Regions from separate parts of the Homo sapiens genome. Here all the other regions are linked to region 2. Evidence: fine-mapped QTL for protein levels in blood plasma. Region 2 holds a variant in brackets. A gene starts in each other region. All regions are shown on their forward strands. Region 1 holds the start of CD300LG (CD300 molecule like family member g). Region 2 overlaps SURF6 (surfeit 6). Region 3 holds the start of MEP1A (meprin A subunit alpha).

Evidence for each region. PIP is the chance, under the fine-mapping model, that this variant and not a neighbour inherited with it causes the effect. The UK Biobank Pharma Proteomics Project read protein levels with antibody pairs (Olink). The fine-mapping took linkage between variants from a reference panel, not from the people measured, so its PIPs are less certain.
Region 1: CD300LG starts here. The variant in region 2 is fine-mapped to the plasma level of the CD300LG protein (UK Biobank, PIP above 0.99).
Region 3: it holds the start of MEP1A, and the variant in region 2 is fine-mapped to the plasma level of the MEP1A protein (UK Biobank, PIP above 0.99).

What each region holds. Positions count from the first base shown.
Region 1 is chr17:43,845,502-43,853,678 of GRCh38, forward strand. It overlaps CD300LG (CD300 molecule like family member g), which reads left to right and starts at 1,675. Exons shown (of 7, transcript NM_145273.4): 1 at 1,675-1,758; 2 at 3,057-3,392; 3 at 7,411-7,512. The coding sequence starts at 1,716. LOC107984979 (a long non-coding RNA gene) reads left to right here. Exons shown (of 3, transcript XR_001753057.2): 3 at 763-974. LOC107985077 (a long non-coding RNA gene) reads right to left here. Exons shown (of 2, transcript XR_001752896.2): 2 at 4,249-4,800.
Region 2 is chr9:133,321,344-133,329,499 of GRCh38, forward strand. It overlaps SURF6 (surfeit 6), which reads right to left. Exons shown (of 5, transcript NM_006753.6): 5 at 7,433-8,156. Among named protein-coding and RNA genes, the nearest start is that of SURF6, 11 kb to the right of the region's middle. The variant T/C (reference allele first, on the strand shown) is at 6,415.
Region 3 is chr6:46,788,398-46,796,577 of GRCh38, forward strand. MEP1A (meprin A subunit alpha) reads left to right here and starts at 4,992. Exons shown (of 14, transcript NM_005588.3): 1 at 4,992-5,070; 2 at 5,155-5,179; 3 at 5,269-5,319. The coding sequence starts at 5,002.

The DNA.
Region 1 (8,177 bases), not on the chromosome of region 2:
GGAGTGCAATGGTGTGATCTCAGCTCACCACAACCTCCACCTTCTGGGTTCAAGCGATTCTCCTGCCTCAGCCTCCCTGAGTAGCTGGGATTACAGGCATACACCACCATGCCTGGCTAATTTTATATTTTTAGTAGAGACTGGGTTTCTCCATGTTGGTCAGGCTGGTCTCAAACTCCCGACTTCAGGTGATCCACCCGCCTCAGCCTCCCAAAGTGCTGGGATGACAGGCGTGAGCCACCATGCTGGGCCATAAATATTTTTTAATCTGTGTTTTTTTAAAACTGCAAAAACAGATCACCTTTTGTAGTCTGTACATGTAAAAGAGAGTCAGGGGCTGAGATCATGGTAACAGTTTTCCCCACCGTGAACAGCTGGCCCTGCCCACTAAATGGCAGCAGTGCTTCGCAGTCATTGTGAAATTAAAACACTTCTCCCCACGTTACTAGACTCACACACACACAATCTTCCCTCCCAGAACCACTGAGTTAATGCTTCAGATATTAACCTGACAAGTCAGTAAAATTCCAACTGAACATTTGGAAGGATATATGCCAAAATATTAATGGTGCTTTTCTAAAGCAGAAGGGGAATTACAAGAAGCACTCCCTTTTTTCTTTCTTTCCTTTTTACGTTCTGTATTGTGTAAAATTTTGCTTACAACCTGTATGAACTTTGCAACCAAACCAAAAAAAAAGTCATTTTTGAAGCCAGTGTGTCAGAGCTCCCAGTAGTGTACATGTTTGTTTTGGTCCTTTCAAGGAGGATTCAAGTCTGCGATGGAGAAACCACCAATTCACTTTTTCAAATGCCAAAACAACTCCGCAGGCGTGGAGGAGACCTATCTTGCAGCGCTGTAGGCCCAAGGCACCAGGGAATCCGGTCCAGCTCAGCCCTACAGCTTTGCTCAGCCCCGTCTGCACCGCCGCCCCGTGGCCAAGGGCAGTACTGCGTCCTCCAAAAGGCAAGGGCGGAGGAGGGGCCAGGGGCCTTGCCCCAGGGGCAAGCTTCTTTCTGTCCCACTGACCACATGGCAGTCTGGTGAAGTTTATGGACCCCTCTCTCAGTATAATGGCGGGTAAATATATAAATAAAATATATATGCTGGAAAGAAAACTAATACTGGTGAGATGATTCTTAAAACTCTTTATAAATGTGTAATATAATAATAGCCGTTTCATTATTGTAAATAACCAGCTCTAGGGGCAGGTCTAGGAACTCATTGTTTTCCAAGCAGTGAGGGGTATACACGACGTTTCGAGATATCCACAACTTGATGTGCCAGTGTCTGTGATTGTAATTGGTAACAAAGTTGCAGGTACTGCTAACAGTACACTCTGAATAAGAGGAAAAGCTAAATATTAGAAGTTGATGAAAGTCAATATGTAACTTTTTCCCATGCGAATTCGACTTACAGACCCCTTAGGGCGCACGGACCACAGGTTAAGGCCCCCTTGAAGGGGCACGAGTTTAGGAGAAACTCTGGTGTGGGTTTTCAGTCCTGGAAGGTGAGCCCTGGGGTAGGCACGCGTGGGCGCTCAGAAAAGGGAAGGCAGAGGCGCCTCCCCGGCTGGGCCTGCGGAGGGATGACCCACACGCCCCTCCCCTCGCTTCCTTGGCCTGGTTTCACGCGACTAGAGAAAGTTAAAGACCCGTGTGACTGAAGAGGAGCTCACAGTTCCCAGCGTCTGCTCCCACGGTGTCCAGCGCCCAGAATGCGGCTTCTGGTCCTGCTATGGGGTTGCCTGCTGCTCCCAGGTGAGATGGGGAGAGGGTCTCGGGAGGGATGTGGGGCTCACCCTTGTGGTCTGCAGGGAAAGGACCTCTTGACTGACTGATAGCCCCACCCCACCTATCCTCAGCCTCCTCAGCCCTAGGGGAGCGGGGCGGGCTGGGGGTGGGGGGAGGTGGGGGTGGCGCCGGGGCCGCACTTGCTGTTTCTGGAACCTAGAGCCAGGTTTTCTCCAGACCTGTGGGTTTCCCCTCATGGCAATGTGGCTGTGAGAGTTGCTTTGCCTCTCTAATCTTAATTTTTCTACCCTGTGCCAAGCCTGGAGGCGGACAAGACACCCCATCTGGTTGCCCTGTTAAACTCAGCAAATATTTGTTGAATTTCGGCTATGCCTCTCCCCACAACCCTGAAAGATGAAGAATTATCACGTTTCATCAATTCTTTTGCTTTCTTTTTCTTTACCTTCTAACACTTAAAATCAGGATAAATCCTACAACTGATGTCAGTTGTTCAGTTGGCAATAGTGAGACCCCATCTCTACAAACAAACAAACAAACAAACAAACAAAATTAGCCAGGCATGGTGGTGCACACTTGTAGTCCTAGCTAGTGGGAGGCTAAGGTGGGAGGATCGCTTGAGCCCCAGAGGTCAAGGCTACAGTGAGCCATGAGCACCATTGCCCTCCAGCCTGGGCAACAGAGTGAGATCCTGTCTAAAAACAAAACAAAACCAGGCACGGTGGCTCACGCCTGTAATCCAAGCTCTTTGGGAGGCTGAGGCGGACGGATCACAAGGTCAGGAGATCAAGACCATCCTGGCTAACACGGTGAAACCCCGTCTCTACTAAAAATACAAAAAATTAGCCGGGCATGGCAGCACGTGGCTGTAGTCCCAGGTACTCAGGAGGCTGAGGCAGGAGAATCACCTGAACCCGGGAGGCAGAAGTTTCAGTGAGCAGACATCGGGCCACTGCACTCCAGCCTGGGCGGCAAAGTGAGACTCCATCTCAAAAACAAACAAACAAACAAACAAAACAAAACAAAACACTCAGAAACCCTGCTGGCTATCTGGCTGTCAGATTCTATCTGAATCTAGAACGCCACCCCTGCACCCCAATTCCTCAATGGGCCAGGGTTAGGGAAACAGCAACAGCCCTGCCCCAAGTTCCCCCAGCGTGGGAGGTTAGTAATGGCTCTTCCAAGGCTGTCCCCAGAAGGGATGACTGAGAAAAGCCTTCCTTCTTCCTCCTAAAATGGAAGCTCTGGCCTTGACCTTGGTACATGGAGCCTGGTTTTTCCAACCTCCACTCCTGCTCTGATTTTAGGTTATGAAGCCCTGGAGGGCCCAGAGGAAATCAGCGGGTTCGAAGGGGACACTGTGTCCCTGCAGTGCACCTACAGGGAAGAGCTGAGGGACCACCGGAAGTACTGGTGCAGGAAGGGTGGGATCCTCTTCTCTCGCTGCTCTGGCACCATCTATGCAGAAGAAGAAGGCCAGGAGACAATGAAGGGCAGGGTGTCCATCCGTGACAGCCGCCAGGAGCTCTCGCTCATTGTGACCCTGTGGAACCTCACCCTGCAAGACGCTGGGGAGTACTGGTGTGGGGTCGAAAAACGGGGCCCCGATGAGTCTTTACTGATCTCTCTGTTCGTCTTTCCAGGTAACAGATATCTCTCCTTCCCCAGGCTGGGGACAGGAGCTGCAGAGGGAAGAGGGAGGGGTGGTGGGGCATAATCCTGGTACCAACATTATGGGCACTGAGTCCTCAGGGAGATCATGCAGGTCAAGCACCGAGCAAGGCTTGGGGCACAGAAGGAGCCGCCTGAGTCTTGGCCATTGTCTCACTCTTGCTGCCCGAGGTCACACCAGTAGTAGATGTCAGAGCAGGACCGGACCCAGATCTGTCCAGGGCTGGGCTCGGCGCCTTTCCTTTCTGCCCAGGTGTGCTGGAGGGAGATTTCCATAGGCTGGGTACAAGATAGACATATCAGGGGATAAAGAAGACTCCTCGCCTGGTGTCAGAGATATTCCTGAGGCCTCCCGAGGCTGGGCCAACCATTGCTGCATTCCAGACCCAGCCCACAGCATCACCCTGGACATGCTGGCCTCGCCCTGCTTGTGCCCTCAACTCTCCCCTCCTGGCCTCCACCTCCCCAGATATTGAAGTCCAGCCACAGGTGCTAGAGTGCCTGGGAACCAGCCTCTGGGTAGGATGCCTGAAGGAGGGATCGTTAAATGCAGGGACACTAGGGGGCCGGGGCTGGAGCTATGGGGCCTGGGTAGGGGATAAAGCACCTCTCTGGGAGCCCAGAACCCCAAGTGGACCTGCTGAGCTAAGGAGAAAGAAGCCAGAGAGGGCCCAGGGGAGTGGGAGCCTTGGTCTGCTGGCCAGTGTGGGCGAGGTACATCTTTGTATCCCCATTTCACGGATGAGGGACTGAGGCTCCAAGAGACTAAGTGATTTGCCCAAGATCTCACAGCAGGAAGTGATGGAACTGGGATTCAAACACAAGTCGTTTCCAGCTTTGATGTCTGCTTTATTCCTCTCCTAGCCCCATAGCTGGGACCTATCCCAATCCCAGGCCCATCCCTACCACCATAGCCCCTATTTTTTTTTTATTCCTTTATCCATGGATCTTTAATTTGAGGAAATAAAGTTAAACTTGCCAAATAGCAGCAGCATCGAACCACATTGAATCTGTTCTTCATTATTTACAAGATTCTCTTATCTCTTCCAATTCTTATCAGTGTTCACATGTCATTTCTACCAGTTATGATCAAGTTCGCTTGTGTTTTAGGTTTACCCTCATTTGTAATTCTTTATTTGTGTATGACATGTGTATTGCTATATTATCGTCCTATATCGGACTCTATTGGCCTCTCTCTGATGGCAGTTGGGATGTTGAAAATGAAGAAGACTGACGACAGTGATGTGCTGGTAAATGTTTAACAGGCTGGGGATGCTGTCATTTTGTGGTGTTTTCCAATTTCTGTGGTGTCCATTTCTGTGGTCCAATTCCCATGGCCAATTTCCAGCCATCGACAGTTTAACACGATCTCACCAACTCCTGAAAAGTTAACAGTGAGCTCTTGTGAGTCAGTGCGAGCCATCTCCAGCACACCATTGAGTATGGTGAACCATGAGAAGAATTTCTAAGAAAGTCAGAAAAAGACAAATGTAGCCACTATCATTTCTTTTCTTTTTATTTATTTATTTTTATTCATTCATTCATTCATTCATTCATTCATTTTTCTGAGATGGGGTCTCACTCTGTCATCCAGACGGGAGTGCAGTGACACAATCTTGGCTCATTACAACCTCTGCCTCCCAGGCTCAAGTAATCCTCCTACCTCAGCCTCCAGAGTAGCTGGGACCACAGGCACAAGTCACTATGCCTGGCTACATTTTGGTTTTTTGTTTTTTTTTTAAGATGTGGTTTCGCCATATTGGCCTGTCTGGTCTCAAACTTCTGGACTCAAGCCATCTGCCTGCCTCAGCCTCTCAAAGTGCTGAGATTACTGGCAGAAGCCACTGTGCCCAGCCAGCCTACTATCATTTTCTTTTATTCATCTTTGCCTGAAGGCCCTAGGCAATGAAATATGCAAGATTAAGAAGTATAAGTCCCGGCATGGTGGCTCACGCCTGTAATCCCAGCACTTTGGGAGGTCAAGGCGGGTGGATCACGAGGTCAGGAGTTCAAGACCAGCCTGGCCAAAATGGTGAAACCCCGTCTCTACTAAAAATATAAAAATTAGCCGGGCATAGTGGCAGGTGCCTGTAATCCCAGCTACTCAGGAGGCTGAGGCAGAGAATTGCTTCAACCCGGGAGGCGGAGGTTGCAGTGAGCCAAGATCGTGCCACTGCACTCCAGCCTGGTCAACAGAGCCAGACTCAGTCTCAAAAAAAAAAAAAAAAAAAAAAAGAAGAAGAAGTATAAATGTTGGAAAGGAAAAGATAAATACTCTGTATTTGCAAAAGATTTGATCATCTACTTAGAAAAATCCAAGAATAAACTGACCTAGTGTTACAGATTGAGTATCCCTAATCCAAAAATGCAAAATACTCCAAAGTCCGAAACTTTTTGTGTGCCAGCATCACACACACAAAGGAAATGCTCACTGGGGCATTTTGGATTTCAGATTCCTGGATTAGGGATGCTGAATCGGCAGATATAATGCAAATATTCTGAAATCTGAAACACTTCTGTTCCCAAGCATTTTTGGATAGGGGATACTCAATCTGTAGAAGAGAAAGTGGTGGAGAAAGAGGGAGAGTCCAGGATGGCACACAGTCAGCAAGGACTGGGGAAGTGACAGATGGACTTGGGGAAGTGGGGACCGGAGTAGCTCCTGGGGAGTTGGTTGCATCAGGCTTCTGCCCACTGTGCTGGGCACAGAGGACAGGAATTTTTTTTTTTTTTTTTTTTTTTTTTGAGACGGAGTCTCGCTCTGTCGCCCAGGCTGGAGTGCAGTGGCGCGATCTCGGCTAATTTTTTGTATTTTTAGTAGAGACAGGGTTTCACGTGTTAGCCAGGATGGTCTCGATCTCCTGACCTTGTGAGCTGCCTGCCTTGGCCTCCCAAGAGGATAGGCATCTTGCCTTTAAGGAGTCTCAGCCTAGCAGGGAGACCCAGTACACAAGAAATTGCAGTGTAAGTGAGCATTAGCGCCACTGGAGGCACGCACAGGGGACTGTGAGTGCACAGAGGAAAAAGAGATTCGCTGCTTCCAGGGAAGACATTACAGAGGAGTTGACCTTGAGCTTGTGCTGAAGGACAGAAAGAAGTGCTTTAGGCAGAGATGGAAAGGAAAGGCATCGCACACAGAGGAACAGCATGTCCAAGGCACGGAGGTGGGCAGGAGGCTGGTTTAGTCGGGAATAGAGGATGACTCTATGGCTGGAGCACCGAACAGAGAAAGAGGCGAAGCTGACAAGGTGGTTCAAAGCCTCAAAGCCTGAGTTTTGTTCTTTGCTTTTTTTTTTTTTTAGAGACGAAGTTTTGCTGTTGTTGCCCAGGCTGGAGTGCAGTGGCGCAATCTTGGCTCACTGCAATCACCGCAACCTCTCCCTCCCGGGTTCAAGCAATTCTCCTGCCTCAGCCTCCCAAGTAGCTGGGATTACAGGCATGCTCCACCATACCCAGCTAATTTTGTATTTTTAGTAGAGAGGGGGTTTCACCGTGTTGGCCAGGCTGGTCTCGAACTCCTGACCTCACGTGATCCACCAGCCTTGGCCTCCCAAAATGCTGAGATTACAAGTGTGAGCCACCACACCCGGCCTGAAGCCTGAGTTTAAGAGGCCTCGAAAGGCATACTAAAAAGTTTGAACTTTGGCTTTTAGGCAATGGAGAGCCAGTGACTGTTCTAAGGCAGAGAGGGATGGGATCCAACACAGACTTTTGAGACAAAACTGGAGTAGTGTGAAGGGTGGCAGGGAAGAAGCAGGCTGAGAGGCAGGTGGGTTTGAGGCTCTGAGCTAGGCGCGAGGCCAGGGGGCTGCAGGAGTAGAAGACCAGGGATCTGCTGGAACCCGCCACGTGGCTCCTGGTTGGCCGAGGCGAAAGATGGCAGTGCTCTGTGCTGAGGTGGGGGGTAGGAAAACTGCCAGCTGCTCCCAAGGAAGGAAAAGGGGTTCAGAGCGGTGCCACCCCTGAGAGCAGCCTTTCCCTTTCCTCTAGGACCCTGCTGTCCTCCCTCCCCTTCTCCCACCTTCCAGCCTCTGGCTACAACACGCCTGCAGCCCAAGGCAAAAGCTCAGCAAACCCAGCCCCCAGGATTGAGTGAGTGAATGGCAATTCCGCCCCTTCCCTTGCCACCCTTCTTACAGAAGCAGCCAGTGAGTGCCTGCCTGGTACCAGACACAATAGTTTATGGCCACCTAGGTGTCCCCACAAGCCTGGGAGCTGGGTTGTCCAGCTGTGGAAGTGGAGGCTCAGCAGGGTTAGGTCACTTGCTCAGGGTCACACAAGAAGTGCCAGATCCCAGAAGTGGTCACAGCCTGACCCCAAAGCTCATATTCTGTCTGCGCCATCCAGAGTCTCGGGGGCAAGCCAGAAAGGCCAGGCCTTGGGCCCTGACCTCTGGACTCATCCTGCCACCCTGCCCTTCCTGGTCTCATGGCTGCAGAAGGAAGTCAAGGCCTTACTGAGGCACGGGTGGTTGGGGAGGGGGCACATGGTGGTGAGGGGAGGACCTGCCCTTCTGGTGAGGAAGGAGGTGACAATTGACTGGGACTGTAGGGGGAGGGCAGGAAGGTGTCCACTGAATGGTCACTGGAAAGGGTCATGGAAGCGGGGAAGGGGAGTGCTTATACCTCCTCACAGAGGCAACAAGCTGTGGGCACAGAAAGAGACTGAACATCATGCACAGCTGTGGGGTGTGCCTGATCTACGGTCTCCTTCCTCAAAGTGGCTTCATCTAGATCTGTTTGCTTACTGGGGTATCC
Region 2 (8,156 bases):
CGGGTGTGGTGGTGTGCACCTGTAATAGCCACTCAGGAGGCTGAGGCAGGAGCATCGCTTGCACCTGGGAGACAGAGGTTGCAGTGAGCTGAGATCGCACCACTGCACTCCATTCTGGGTGACAGAACAAGAGTCCATTTCAAAAAAATAAAAAATGTACTGTCCATGTTTACTGATGACTTTATGTAGTTAGTGGATCCTGCCAGCACAGCCACAGTTCCTGCTGATCTCTGTCCCGCAGTTGACCACCCCGTCTGTGTTTTTGCCCCAGCCTGTATTGCTGGGCTTGAGTCTTCTGTCCTCACGACCCTCACCGGGGACTCAGACACAGCCCTTCTGCTCTGGGGACATGTCAGTCCTTGGCCTGAGCGTCCAGGCTCTGCGCGGCCCCGTTGTCCTTACAGGGACTCCGTCCCTGGGGAAACTTCCCACGTGTCAGAACCTTCCCTTCCTTTGTTTGAGAAAACAAAAAATTCTTCCTCTCTTGACCAGGAGCAGTGGCTCACGCTGGTAATCCCAGCACTTTGGGAGGCCGAGACAGGAGAATTGCTTGAGGCCAGGAGTTCAAGACCAACATAGCAAGATCCCATCTGTTTATAGATCTATATCTATGTATCATCTCTCTATATAGTACATGTAATATGTATATAATATATAATAATCATATATATAATTCTTCCTTTTTTGCGGGGGGAGGGGGTTGGAGTCTCACTCTGTCACCCAGGCTGGAGTGCAGTGGCATGATCTAGGCTCACTGCAACCTCCCCGTCCTGGTTCAAGCGATTCTCCTGTCTCAGCCTCCCAAGTAGCTGGAACTACAGGCATGTGCCACCGCATCTGGCTAATTTTTGTATCTTTTTTTTTTTTTTTTTTTTGAGATGGAGTTTCACTCTGTCGCCCAGGCTGGAGTGCAATGGTGGGATCTCAGCTCACTGCAACTTCCGCCTCCCTGGTTCAAGTGATTCTCCTGCCTCAGTCTCCCAAGCAGCAGGGATTAGGCGCCTGCCACCACACCTGGCTAATTTTTTGTATTTTCAGTAGAGATGGGGTTTCACCATGTTAGCCAGGCTGGTCTTGAACTCCTGACCTCAGGTGATCCGCCCGCCTCGGCCTCCCCAAGTGTTGGGATTACAGGCGTGAGCCACTGTGCCTGGCCAATTCTTCCTTTCTTGAATGCCCTTTTCTGCCATCCTAATTTTCCCATCGTTCAGGGTCAAGGTTGATGCTCACCTTCCCCAGTAAGCCCTCCCTGATGTCTTCCCAATTCCTGTGGGGTAAGCAGGGCAGCTCAGTGGCTGAAGGCACATGCGTCACAGCCAGGAAGCCCTGGTTTTCGCTCTGACCCCACTGCTTCTGGCTGACCCTGGAGAAGCCATCCACGCTGAGCTGCAGAAGGGCCACTACAGCCTGTGTGCAGCCCTCACAAGGCGTATACGGGAATTACTGCAGCGATACGGGGGATTCCTCGAGGAGCTCACTGAGCATGCAGGTGTTACACCCCAGAGCGCGCTGAAATCATTCAAATGAGCCAAGCCTAAGCCTCCCTACCGCCTCGCCCACCCCCTCCCATGGAAACCACATTACGGGCTTCACCCACAGTTCTGCCCTCTCCTGCCTCCTGACCGACTCCAGCACTTCCCCGTGTGGCCCTGTGTGGCTTGGGGTACCCCTTCTCCTGGAAACTGTCGTAAACTATCCTTTCAATGGCAATTATCTCCTGATCTGGTGGCCTTACTGAACCTCAAATTTTCAATAAATACGTTGTTTTTTAAGCCAGGCTTAATAGCATGCACTTGTGGTCTCAGCTACTTGGGAGGCTGAGGTGGGAGGATCGCTTGAGGCCAGGAGTTTGTGGCCGCAGTGCAGTATAATTGCACCTGTGAAGAGCCACTGCACTCCAGCCTGGGCAACGCAGGGAGACCCTGTGTCCAAAAAATAATTATTATATTTTAAAGACAAGCAGACTATGCATGGAGTCCCGAGGGTGAACAGGTGTCGGGGGGCAGCGGGAGCGTGGAGAAAGCCGGGAGGAGGTGGGAACAGGAAACCCTCAGGGTCACACCCCAGAAGGAGAAGGCCCTAGCCTGAATGGGACTGCTGGGAAGGGGCTGAACACCAGCAGGGAGTGGAGCTGCGGAAACACACACGGAAGTGGGGCATGGGTGCTGGGTGGACACTCCACTTCCAGATAAGAGGGGATCTTGTGGATGGTGGTGGAGGCGCTCCTGGCCCTACTGGGCTCCGGCACTCAGCCTGCCCTGCCACAGAGGCAGCCCATACTAGAGGCTACTGCACGTCAGGAGAGGGGCAGGCTCAAAACCAGAAAAGTTATACTCTGGGCTCTGCCAGCCCCACCCTCCCAATCCAGGAAACCCAATTCATCCAAATATGAGTATCAATATCCACCCAAAGATACCAGAGGGAAAAAAGAAACCTAAAAGGAGCGGGTGGCCAGTGCAGTGCTCACTCCTGAATCCCAGCACTTTGGGAGGCTGAGGCGGGAGGATCGCTTAAGCCCAGGAGGTCAAGACTGCAGTGAGTTGTGACTATGTCACTGCACTCCAGCCCAGGCAACAAAGCAAGACCCTGTCTCAAAAACAAACAAACAAAAAGGGAACAGCAAGACTTCCCTGCAGATGAAGAAAACACAGAGAAAACCACTGCCACAAAGCCAAGTGAAAGTGGCAAGCCAGCGGGCAGCCCCATGATGCAGCTGGGGAAGTGGCCAGGGGAGTGGCTGCAGCGGAAATGGCCATGGGGAACTCTGCGGCCCCAGGAAGAACAGGTGGACAGGTGCTGGTGGAACTTAGGAAGGACTGGAAGCAAAGGCCACAGACACAAGTCTAGAGATGCTGTGGAAAGTGCAGCCAGGAAGAAACAGGGACGTGAAGAGGCACAACAGCAGCAGAGCAAGCAGGCAGGAGAGGCGGTGGCGGGGGAGGCAGCAGCAGGGGAAGCAGCGGTGGGGAGGCAGCAGCAGGCAGGTCCTTGGCTGGCAGGGCAGAGCCAAGACAGGACAGACTCCAAGGTAGAAGTCCAGACAACTTTGCTAAAACAAACGAATTGAGGCGGAGCATTACTGCTGAGCTTTGCCTCCTGTCAGATCAGCGGTGGCATTAGATCTTCATAGAAGTGCAAACCCTACTGTGAACTGCGCATGCGAGGGATCTAGGTTGCTCACTCCTAATGAAAATCTAATGCCTGATGATCTGAAGTGGCACAGTTTCATCCCCAAACCATCCCTCCCACCACCCCTACTGTCCATGGAAAAATTGTCTTCCAAGAAACCAGTCACTGGGGCAAAAAATGTTGGTCAAAAGTACCGCTGTACTAGAGTGAATTTTAGTTAACTGAGAGATGATCACAGATAGTAAGAGGAACAGGGAGTGAGCACTCACATATTCAACTAGAGGACAGGGACCGAGATAAAAACAGCAGCAAGTTGTGATGGGTACGTACGGTGTGTTCCCTGCCAAATCCACACACTGATGTCTTAACCCCAAGCACCACAGAACGTGACCTTGTTTGGAAATGGTGTCACTGCAAATGTTATTAGTTAAGATGAGGTCACTAAGGTGGGCTCTAATCCAATGTGACTGGTGTCCTTATTATAAGAAGAGGCAATCAGGACCCACAGACAGGCACAGGGGGAAGATGAGAGGATGCTGTTTGCAGGCCAAGGACAGCACCCAGGAACAGCCTTCACTCAGGGTCCTCAGAAGAAACCAACCCTGCTGATGTCTGGACTGGACCCCTGCCCTCCAGAGCTGTGAACAATGAATTCCTCTCACCTAAGCTGCTCTGCGGTGCTTTGTTAATGGCAGCCCTAGCAAACTCATACACAAAGGTAACAGAATGTGTAAAAAAACAATTTTACAAAGGCAGCTATAACAGTATGAGACAAGAAAGCAGAGAGAGGATGGAAAATAGAATCGCCCTGCTGATTCCTTCATATTATAGTTGGATTCTAAAGACATCACTTAATGCTGACAAACTGAGAAGTTTAGCATATTAAAGAGGACAGAGGCAAATACTAAGAAATATAATAGTATTCATTCAAAAAATGGGTGGGCCGGGCATGGTGGCTCACACCTGTAATCCCAGCACTTTGGGAGGCCGAGGCAGGTGGATCACCTGAGGTCAGGAGTTCGAGACCAGCCTGGCCAACATGGTGAAATCCATCTCTACTAAAAATACAAAAATTAGCCAGGCTTGGTGGCGCGCATCTGTAATCCCAGCTACTAGGGAGGCTGGAGCAGGAGAATCGCCTGAACCTGGGAGGTAGAGGTTGCAGTGAGCTGAGATGGCGCCATTCCACTCCAGCCTGGGTGACAGAGCGAGGCCTGTCTCAAAAAAAAAAACAAAAAAAACCATGGGTGGTAGAAAAGAGAGAGAAGGGAGAGAGGGGAAAGGTTTACAAATTATTTCATAGTAGGGAACTATGAGAACTCTTTTAAAGGTTGAGGGGACTAAAGATATTATTTAAGGGTATGAACAGTAAGTAGCAACTAGACCCAAAAAAAATCAAGCCTTCCTAAAAACCAGAAGAGCTACATTTTTTAAGAGCAAATGCAGATTAAGTAATGACTATATGTAGTAAATGTGAAATAAAACAATTTCAAAAAGAACAAAGTTGGAAGACTCATGCTACCCGATTTCAACACTTACTATAGAGCTGCAGTGATTAAGACGGTGTGGCGCTGGCGAAAGGTTCAGGGGAACAGAACACACAGTTTAGAAATAGACCTACACAGATTTATGGCCAATTGATTTCAGATGAAGGTACAAGGGCAATTCTACGAAGACAGTCTTTTCAGCAACTGGTCCTGGAACACTGGACATCTTTATGCAAAAACGAACCTTCAAAATGGTTATGCCATTTTATTTATTTATTTATTTACTATTTTTTGAGATGGAGTCTTGCTCTGTCTTCCAGGCTGGAGTGCAGTGGCGACAGCTCGGCTCACTGCAACCTCCGTTTCCCAGGTTCAAGTGATTCTCCTGTCTCAGCCTCCCAAGTAGCTGGGATTACAGGCACCTGCCACCACGCCCGGCTAATTTTTATATTTTTAGTAGAGATGGATTTCACCATCTTGGTCGGGCTGGTCTTGAACTCCTGAGCTCAAGTGATCCACCTGCCTCGGCCTCCCAAAGTGCTGGGATTACAGGAGTGAGGCACCACGCCCGGCCACAAGTCCTTTATTATACTGTATGTTTTACAAATATTTTCTCCCACTGTGAGCCTTTTTATCTGTTTTCCTAATTTTTAATTTTTGATGAAGTGCAATAATTGACAGAATGAATAGATAGAAAATTGGCACCAGGTGCAGTGGCTCACGCCTGTAATCCCAGCACTTTGGGAGGCCGAGGAAGGCAGATCACCTGAGGTCGGGAGTTCGAGACCAGCCTGACCAACATGGAGAAACCCCATCTCTATTAAAAATACAAAATTAGCCGGGCATGGTGGCGCATGCCTGTAATCTCAGCTACTCAGGAGGCTGACAGGAGAACTGCTTGAACCCAGGAGACAGAGGTTGCAGTGAGCCAAGACCGCGCCATTGCACTCCAGCCTGGGCAACAAGAGCAAAACTCTGTCTCAAGAAAAAAAAAAGAAAGAAAGAAAGAAAAAAGAAAAGAAAATTGGCAAGGATACAGAACTTGAACTCCACTGGACCTGACATTAAAACACTTGACTCAACAAGAGCAGAAAACATTCTTCTCGAGCACACACAGAACATTTACCAGGAGAGACCACAGTCTGGGCTATGAAACAAACCCTGTTAACTTCAAAAAGATTCAAGTGGTTTTTTGTTGTTTTTTGATACACGGTCTCACTCTGTTGCCCAGGCTGGAGTGCAGTGGCAGGAACATGGCTCACTGCAGCCTCAACCTCCTGGGCTCAAGTGATCCTCCCACCTCAGCTTTCTGAGTAGCTGGGACTATAGGCATAGGCGTGGGCAACCGCCCCAGGGTGATTTTTTAAATTTTTTTGTAGAGACAGGGTCTCGCTGCATTGCCCAGGCTGACCTCAATCTCCTGGGCTCAAATGATCCTCCTGCCTCAGCCTCCCAGTATCGGGATTACAGGTGTGAGCCACCACGCCCCAGCCAAGGACTCAAGTTATACAAAGTATGTTCTCTGACCACAATGAAATTCAACTAGAAATCAGTAACAGAAAGATCTCTGGTAAATTCCCAAATATTTGGAAACTAAATGACATACCTTTAAATAACTCATTAGCCAAAGAATAAATCAAAGGGAAATTAGCAAGTATTTTGAACTGAATGAAAACACAACATATGAAAATTCGTCAGGTATCACAAAAGCAGACTGAACTTTTTAGACCTTACAAATGCATGACTGTCCCCCTTGCCTCTGATCTTCTGCCTGGGGTCTGCCTTTCCCCAATCTTTG[T/C]TCACTATACTGAATCCTACATGACACAGTCAACCTATGAAGAAATCCAGAGATAGACTCTCTAAAATAAATGGATTTGGGAATAGCAGCTTATCTGGAATACTGCAACCGTTGAGGATGGTCTTGCAGTGAGTCCTGTTATTGGTCTGTTTGTAGAAATGTCTTGTGGTAAGTCCTGTTGCAGGAATGTGTGCGTGAGGGCTGCTTCATCACCTCCAACTGTTTTAGTTTGACATAAGTGACTCCATTTTGGTACCGGCAACGTTCACAACTTTCCATGTGACTTCAGCACCCTGCACCCCGATCCTTTCCCTGGCCACTTTGCAGGACCACTACCTATGAGACTATGGGTTCCTTGAGAGCTAGGGCTGGGTCTCATTCGCTCCTGAAACTTTCACCCAGCAGAGTGATGGCCCACGCCATGCATGACATGCGTTGCTCAATGACTGCATCCACTCAGCCAGTATGCCAGTCCCCACTGAGCCTCACTCTCAACCTCCCTGGCTGGCATAGGTTCCTTGTGCAGACATCCAGTGGCAGTAAAATATTGCTGGGTTCTCAGCTTCCCCCACCTGCAGCCCTCACTGGCCCACCCAGTTGTCCTGTCTCTGCTCAGGACGAGACCCCCCCCCGCCTCTTCAGTCTCTGTAGCCAGGTGATGGCAGTGGCCTTTTCCAGACCCTCACTGGCCCCTTAGTTCACTATGATGACTTCACCTCTTGGGAACCCATGGGGATGTCTTTCCCTCCAATACATCTACATTTGCCTGACCCAGAATGTAGTTTCAAGATGGGTCCATGCCTGGCTCCAAATCCCCTTATCAGAGTAAGGAAATACCTTAATTCCTAGTTTGCTAAAAACTCGTTATAAATGGCTGTCGCGTCATTTACTGTGTTCCTGTTCTGCAACCATTGAGATGGTCACGTGGGTTTTGCTCCTTTAATCTATTGATATGAATTACACTCTTGATTCTCTGGCATTGAAACTGCTTTGCAATTCTGAATTAAATCCAGTGTGGCACTTTGCTAAACTTGGTTTATTATTGTCTAAAATCTTGACATTGGTATTTGTAGGGACCAGCCCCACAGGGTCCGTGGGTCTCTCCCTCCCTGTGTGCAGCAATGAGAGAGTGTAGAAATACACACACAAGACAAAGAGATAAAAGAAAAGGCAGCTGGGCCCGGGAGACCACTACTACCAATGCTCGGAGACCGGTAGTGGCCCCGAATGTCTGGCTGCATTGTTATTTATTGGATACAAAGCAAAAGGGGCAGGGTAAAGAGTGTGAGTCATCTCCAATGATAGGTAAGGTCACGTGGATCACGTGTCCACTGGACAGGGTGCCCTTCCCTGCCTGGCAGCCGAGGCAGAGAGAGAGAGGAGACAGAGAGAAAGACAGCTTATGCCATTACTTCTGCATATCAGAGACTTTTAGTACTTTCACTAATTTACTACTGCTATCTAGAAGGCAGAGCCAGGTGTACAGGATGGAACATGAAGGCGGACTAGGAGCGTGACCACTGAAGCACAGCATCACAGGGAGACGGTTAGGCCTCCAGATAACTGCGGGCAGGCCTGCCGGATGTCAGGCCCTCCACAAGAGGTGGAAGAGCAGAGTCTTCTCTAAACTCCTCCAGGGAAAGGGACACTCCCTTTCCCGGTCTGCTAAGTAGCGGGTGTTGTTCCTTGATACTTTTTGCTACTGCTAGACCATGGTCCACCTGGCAACGGGCGTCTTCCCA
Region 3 (8,180 bases), not on the chromosome of region 2:
TCATAGCTGAGTTGGCTTCAGTTTAAATACTTTATGAGGGTTCGATAAGTAGAAAGAGAATTGGGAAAACATAAAGTAAGCTGCTTGTCTGATTCTTCCTTGTGTCATAAGAGAAAGATAACAATGTGTTCTTTGGGTTCTATAAAAGAGAAAAGGCTGGAACCAAATCCATTGAATGCCCACCTGGCCCTAAAGAGTGGCTTATTAGGGTCCTCAGTGCCCAGCTGAGTAAGAAGTACCCCTTGCCTCACCAATTGGGATTGGTGTCTGTACACACTCCAAAACACAGTTGCCTGCCCAGGTCAGCAGGTCTCACATTTTCCATATAGAAATAACCCCCAAGCTTGTTAAAAATGCAGGTCCTCAAACCACACTGCAGAGGGGCTGTTTCCTGGAGGCCTTCTGAAATGGACTTCTGTGTTGATGATCTCTCGAATTCTTAACATCTGATGTATTCCCTATTAGGAAACTGAAGGTTCTATGATCTTTTGATTTTCTTATACAAAGGGAATCAGAGGAAAGCTATTCGATAACCACAGTGAGAGTGGAAGCATCTGACTGATGCAAATTCCACAGTGTCCTGTTCATCAAAGTGTGTTCCACAGACTACCTGCATCAGAGTCACAAGGGTGCTTATTAAAAATGCAGATCTCTGGAACTCACCATTTGACGTGAGTCAGGATTTCCAAATTCCAAGCCAAGAAATTTGTACCTCAACAAACCATCCAGAGGATTTTGAAGGAATCTATAGCTTGGGAACTGTTTCCCTCAGGGTTAATTCTTCTTAGTAAACTGTTAGAGATGGAACCCTGTGAAACCAGGGGTCTGCATGCTACAGCATAATGGTGGAGGCCTCACTCCTGGGCTGTCAAAGGCCAGACATAGGTGTAAAGAACTGCCTCTCAGGTGGAATTTAGGAGCATTGTTCAGGATCTGCATGACCTTGAGAAGGTTCCTTAATTTTTCTTCATCTCAGTTTCTTAATATATAAAATGGAGATAATAATAGTTGCTTCTTCGTAGGATTGTTGTGAGGATTGAATGGATAATTACCCTTAGATACTTGGAATACTGCCTGGCCCACAGTAAGTACTATGTACATGTTGGTTGCTGCTACTGCTTCTGTTATAATTATTATCACCGTCTCAATTTCCACCACCTTGAGGGTTATTCTCTAAAACCCAGGGGTCAGCAAACTATGACCCTTTGCTTTGTTTTTGTGAATAAAGTTTTATTGGAACACAGCCATGTTCACACCTTTACATTATTGTCTACAGCTACTTTATGCTACATACAACAGGAGAGTTACATAGCTACAACAGGGCTCATATGGCCCACAATGCTTGACATATATCTCTTTGCCCTTTACAGACAGTTTGCCGACTCTTGCTCTATACACCTTTGGGCCCCTGTTAATATGTTGATTGCCCTGGGAGGAACAAGGACTGTTGTGTTTCAGGTTAGCTGACAGCTGGTTGAAGGCAGAACTCTGTGAGTGAAGCAGAAGGAATCAGCATCTTGCAATAGAGTAGAAAGAGGGCAGAGAACATCCTTGAGAAGGGTTTGGGGTGAGAGGACTTTGCAAGTCTCTTAGCCCAACTCCTTGCCTGAGCTTTTATGAAGCTGGAGAGTGTGTGGAAATAGCTGGGGGCGGGTTTTTCCATTTTCTACCTGTCAATGGCTTTCTTCCTCTAAGCTTCAGACCACTTTCTCAACTGGTCAGTTTATGAAATGCCCTTCCTGAGATCAAAGCAAGTCACCCCATCCGATACCTTCAGAGAAATTTCTATTTACTTTTTTCAGTTAAAATGAGAACTAATTACCTACTATGTTTCCAAACACTGGGGCAAATACAGGAAATAAAGCATGGACCTTGACCACAGAGTGCATAATCTTCTTTAAACTGAAAAGCCATAAACCCTTCAAATGAAGGACTTAAGGCCCCAGCCTTACTCATTTGATACCCTGACACAATGAAGAAGTGACTAGGATTGCAAATAGCTGGTAACTAATTAACATCTGCCATTAAGATTGTGACAATAAAATAATTGGGGGCAAGTTGTGTCTGCTGAAGACCTATGTTCTCATCACTGGAGATTCTACTGAGCAAGGAGTGGGCTGAGCTGTGTTTTTAGTGCCCATGTTTTGCTAGGAGGCAGTTGCTAACTAGCAGGTAGAAGGAGCAGTTTATTGAGTGCTTCCTATGTTTCTAGTAGCTGTGGTTTACATATGTTATCTCATTGAATCTTTACATTGGCCCCATGAAGTAGGCACCACTATCCATTCTACACATAAAAAGCAGGTACTAAAATTACTGTAGCTAGTCAATGGTAGAGGTGGAGTTCCTGCTTATCTGATTCCAAAGCCATTGTTGTAGTATATCATTCAGATAAGTTTAAGAAGGCAGGGAAAGATAAAAACACATCTGGCTGGAAGCAAGAGAAGGTGGAGAGAATTAAACAGCCTCACTATTCCCTGTTTGAAATCCTGATACCTGAGATTTAGTAGAGAGGTGTACCAAAGCAACAGCACTGCCTTTTTCTTTAGAAAATAAAATAACAAACTCCTACTTCCTGGTTTCCAAGATTAACAAATATTCAGTTTTACCAAATATTCAGTTTTACCATAATTGCTTCAGAATTTGAGAAAAATTAAACAACACATTTAAGAAATAAAAGTCTCATATGTTTTCCACACTGATACTTAAAGCCAATTATTCTTACGATGTTGGCCAGTTTTAAAATTTGATTATTGCCCAATTTTTAAATGGTCTAGATTGTAGTTGCTCACTTAAGTCATTGCGGCTGTTGGGCAAATTTGGCTTTTTGTTTTGTTTTGTTTCGTTTAAAAAATAATATTAGTGGTTTGTAATGGTTAGAGACGGTGGAAGATGGCCTTTTATCACCTCACCATCAGTGGCTTAGGTAAAACAAAAATCAGCCATAGAACGCTTCTGCCCATCAGAAGCAGGCCCCCAGTTGACATGCCTCCTATTTTACAGCTCAAGAAGCTCTACTGTTCACCTTCTAAAAGTCTTTTGTGACAGGAAATGCTTTTTTGACAGCAGGACTAGCCCACCTGCCCAGTAGTAAGTCTGAGGTAGAGAGATGCAGGCTCTAGACCTTGAAGATTGCTCTAATGCCAAAGATTCTTATATCTGGTGCAGGCAAGAATAGGTGGGTGTGTGCATATATTTAGTATTGTGCTGGCGCAGATGGAGCCCACTGTGTACATCTCTTCCCAACACTGCATTCAGTGACATGGTGTTGGTAGCTTGAAATTGACCATGGCAATCAACAAACACTACAAATAAAGGCTTGGTTTTGTTTGTTTGCTTGTTTGTTTTTACTTTTTTTAAAAGAGCCGATTATTAAACATTTACCTGTGCATGGCTGAATATATTCCATAATTTATCTTTTCTTTTAGTATAAACACATTTTCCCCATTCTTTACCATAACAAAAAAACTTCAATGAATATGCTATGTGGAATTTTGTGCACATATGTGTGAGTTCCTTTAGCATATAGACCTAGAAGTGAAGTTTCTATCTTATGAACTGTGCACATTTCAACTTCATTAGATAGCATCAAATTGATGTCCTACTAGATTTCCTATTTTCTTACCTTCTTGTTGACACTTGATATTGTCAGTCTTCTTAATTTATGCCAATCTTAGCTTGAGGTGGTATTTTACTGCTATTTGAACCTATAATTTTTCTGATTACTTACGAGGCTAAAAATCTTTTTACATATTTATTGGCCATCTGGGTCTTTTGTGAATTTGCTACTCATATTTTTTGTTCATTTTTTCCTTAGATAATCTCCTGTTCTTTTTATTGATTTGTAGAAATTCTTTACATATCCTGAATACTTATTCTTATTCAATTATATGCAGTATACATATCATCTCTCACCTGTGGCTTGTCTTTTAATCATGTTATGTTTTTGTCATAAAGAAGTTTAAATTTTGATACAGTCAAATGTATTATTCTTTTCCTCTGTAATTTCTATGTTTTTTTCATGTTTAAGCAATCTTTCTTGACCTAAAGGTTAAAAATATGTTCCTATATTTTCTTTTTTGAAGTTTATATTTTCATATTTAAATTTTTAATCTATCTAGAATTTATTTTTGTCAATGGTATCAGGTGTACATTTAATGTATTTCCTCATATGGAAATGCAATTATTCCCACATTATTATGAAAGAGACCCAAGTTTCCCTCTTGCCTTTTTGGTTCCTCTTATACATAAAAGCCCTGCATATGCTTGCATCTATTTGGATATTACCTATTCCAGTCTATAGATTCATTTTATCTTTATTTTTGGAACTATTACACTCTAATTACTGTAACTTTACCAAAGCTCCTGATATTCTTTTGAGGCAATTCTTTTCTCTTTATTCAGCCTTTTCAGAATTTTCTTATCTATTCTTCAATGTTTACTCTTTCATGCGAATTGAACCATTTGTCAGCTTGGCAAGTTCCACTGAAAACCCTGTTAGATTTTTTACTAGAATGACAATGAATTTATAGATTAATATTAAAACAATCTATTAATATTTCATACATATGTACATATAGAGAGAGAGTCAGGTATTTTTATGTCCTTCAATAATTGCTTTATAACATTTCCATAAAATTTGAATTTATATTTTATTAGAATTAAATAATAATAATTTTATAAATTATTTTTATTTTTATTGTTAAGGGGATCGTCTATCCTGTTTTATGATATGAATGGCTATGGCTGCCCTATAGGAATGTTATTAGTTCTTATATGCTCATTTCCGTATTAATTTTTCAAACTTTTCCCCAGTCTTTGGAGCTTAAGCATTTAAGGTAAACTTAGTGTTTGTCCTCGAAAGAGTCAATGATGTTATCTTTGACAACCTTTATTGGCACTACGGTACATATGGAAGGGTCAAAGTTTCTAATACGACCGTCAGGGTAAAGTCTAAACGGTATTTATGACAAGGTGTGTGCTAAAATCAGCTCACTTGCAGCAATGGCTTGGATTAGATCCACTTGCATTCTCTTTTTTACCTTGCTTTTTGCCCACATAGCAGCTGTACCGGTAAGTCGAGTCCTGCTTTTTGGATATTTAGAAATATTAATTCTAGTATACATTATCCATTTTCTGTATATTTATTTTTTTCAGATTAAGTATCTTCCTGAAGAAAATGGTAAGAATTAGTTCAAATGCACAGAGAGTGTTTTTGAACTTTTTTCCTTCGGCAAGACTAATAATAATTTTTTTTCTCACTTTTAACAGTACATGATGCAGATTTTGGTGAACAGAAGGATATTTCAGAAATCAATTTAGGTGAGTTCAATTTTTGTGTTATTAAAGTCTTGAAATTACTTGAAACCCAGTGGTGGGATTACTGAACACTTTCCTTCCTAATACTGTATTGTGATTCTCTGGGGGAGAAATATTTTTTGGTGCTTTGTGAGAAATTGCATTTTCTGAAAGATAAAAATGCGGAAAGAGAAGATAGTTAGACCAGACTTTCTAGGAGAGCTAGGAAGTCCTCAATGGATCTAGAAATATGTAACAAGTTTCTCTTTATAAAAATTTTATTTTTCCAATTTGTATTTGGAGGAAAAGGAAAGCAAATAGATAATTATTCCGATTGTTAAAGAAAAATATAAGAATAAGCCTCTGGTTATATTTAGTGGGGAAACAAAACCCAACCCCTCCACTGGCCCATCATATTCACTAACAACTCCTCGGTTGAGACTTAGGGGTGAGTGTAAAGCAATCTCCACTTAGACATCTCATTTACAAATATATTTCTTGAAGAAATTCATCAGTCTCATCCATTACTGAGAGGAGAGAGAAGCTGAGTCATCATCTCTGTTTTCTCTCTGTTGTCCTGCTTCTGAAATGAGAGAGAAGCCTCTGCATTCCCAGTGTCTTAGGTCAGGATTTGTGGAAGCAGAGCTATTCATGATAATAAGTACCTTCAGTTTACAAAAGCTTTTATATGCAATTGCATATTTATTTGTCCAGTCTTGTCGTGGAGTAAGTGCTGTTTTCATTTTTTTGGGAAGCGACAGGTGGCTTCTCATGGGTAGAGTGACTTGCTCAAGATCATAGGTAGCAGTGATGGGGCTTACTTCCAGATCTTGTAGCCCATACCTTAATAGCTCAGTGCTATCTGAAGGCTACAAAACTAACATACCAATAACTAAGGGTCAATTTTTCTGGCTTTGTCTCACTCACAGAGAAGCCAGTTAGTTGATATTTAATTGGAATAGCTGGAGAATGGCTGCATAGGCAGAGCAGAAATAGTTTAGGAAGGTAAATGGGTGAATGCATAAATGGGTCCCAAGACTTCAGAGCCAGGCACTAAAATATCTCTCTTTAGAGTTAGCCATTGTGTAAACAGTTCAGAGAATCTGCTGTATTTTACAACAGAAATGGGATTAGAATTAGAGTTTTTCTAATCTCATCATTATTTATCTAATAAAAATTAATTATTTACCTCTTTGCCATTTTGTACTCTTTAGGCCCACCACCACCTCTGATCCTTGACCCCAGTGGAGAAATCTCATTACCATGTAAATCTTCTTTTTAGGCCATTTCAACCAAACCACCAGGATTGATTGGGTTAGCCATATGGCCAGATTCTAACACCATAAATTGGGAAAATCATATAGAGAAAATTGCCACCTTTTTACCATCTTCTTTTTGCCTCACAAGGCTGAGTAAACGTTTCTTATCCTCCATCCCAAGACCTGCTCCTCTCAGTCCTTTTCATTTCAGTAAATGTGACTCACTCCTTCTAGATTTTCGGCTCAGAATGTTAGAGTTGCCCCTAACTCTTGCTTTTCTCTCACACCTGACACACAATCTGTCAGCAAATGTTATTCGATCTACTCGATCTACTTTTCTTTTTTCTCTTTTCTTTTCTTTTCTCCTGAGATGGAGTGTTGCTATGTCACCCAGGCTCGAGTGCAGTGGTGCCATCTCGGCTCACTGCAACCTCCGCCTCCTGGGTTCAAGCGAGTCTCCTGCCTCAGCCTCCCGAGTAGCTGGGATTATAGGTGCCCACCACCATGCCAGGCTAGTTTTTCTATTTTTAGTAGAGATGGGGTTTCTCTATGTTGGCTAGGCTGGTCTTGAACTCAAGACCTTGTGATCCGCCCACCTTAGCCTCCCAAAGTGCTGAGATTACAGGCATGAGCCACCACGCCTGGCCTAGATCTACTTTCAAATCATACTACAGTTGAGACTTTTCAGCACTTTTACTGCCCCTACCTTGGTCAGCCACCTCATGTCTGGGCTGGTCCTTTGACAGGCCTCATAACTGTGCTTCCCTTTCTGCCTTTGCTCCCTAAAGACTATTCTGCACAACATAGAGCTCTCCTTTTAATATCCTTCAGATCATGTCATTTCTCTGCTCCAACCATCTAATGACTTCTCCTTCAACATAAAGTAAAGGCCCTAGAGCCTTGATTCCCAAAGTGTGGTCCACAGGCCAAAGTGATCTGTGTCACTCAAGAGCTTTCTCTTAGAAATGCAGCATTTGAGGATCCACCCCAGACCTACAGAATTAGCATCTTCATTTTGACAGACCCAAGTGGTTTCTATGCACATCAGAGTGTGAGTCAATCTGCCCCTGACTACTCTTCCCCTTCCTACTTGAGCTTTCCAGCCACCCTGACTGCACAGCTACTCCTCTAAGGAAGTGATTTTCGATGTGTTGTCCCCAAGCCAGCAGCATCGGCATCACCAGGAAACTTGTTAGGAATGAACATTCTCAGGCCTCACCCCAGACTTAATGGACCAGAAATCCAACGGTGGGGGCTCATCAACGGGTGTTGACCAAGCCTTCCAAGGGACTCTGATGCTCAAGTTTAGGACCACTGCCCTAAGACATCAAGGCTTTCCTGTCACAGGACCTTTCTATCTGGTGTTGCCTCTACCTCCCCTACTCTTCCTTCATTCCCTCACTCTATCATATTTCTGCTAAAATGCCACCTCCTGTGGGAGGCCCTGCCTGACCACTCTTTAATAAAATAGCAAACCTATCTCACCTCAGCACTCTTTCCCACTTTACCTTTCATTTGTTTCTTTTTTATTGTACTTTTCACCATTTGTCACACTTTACAGTTATTTGTTTATTTGTATGTCTCCTTCTTCCCCCAATCAAGAGAGTCATCTCCTTAAGGACTTGT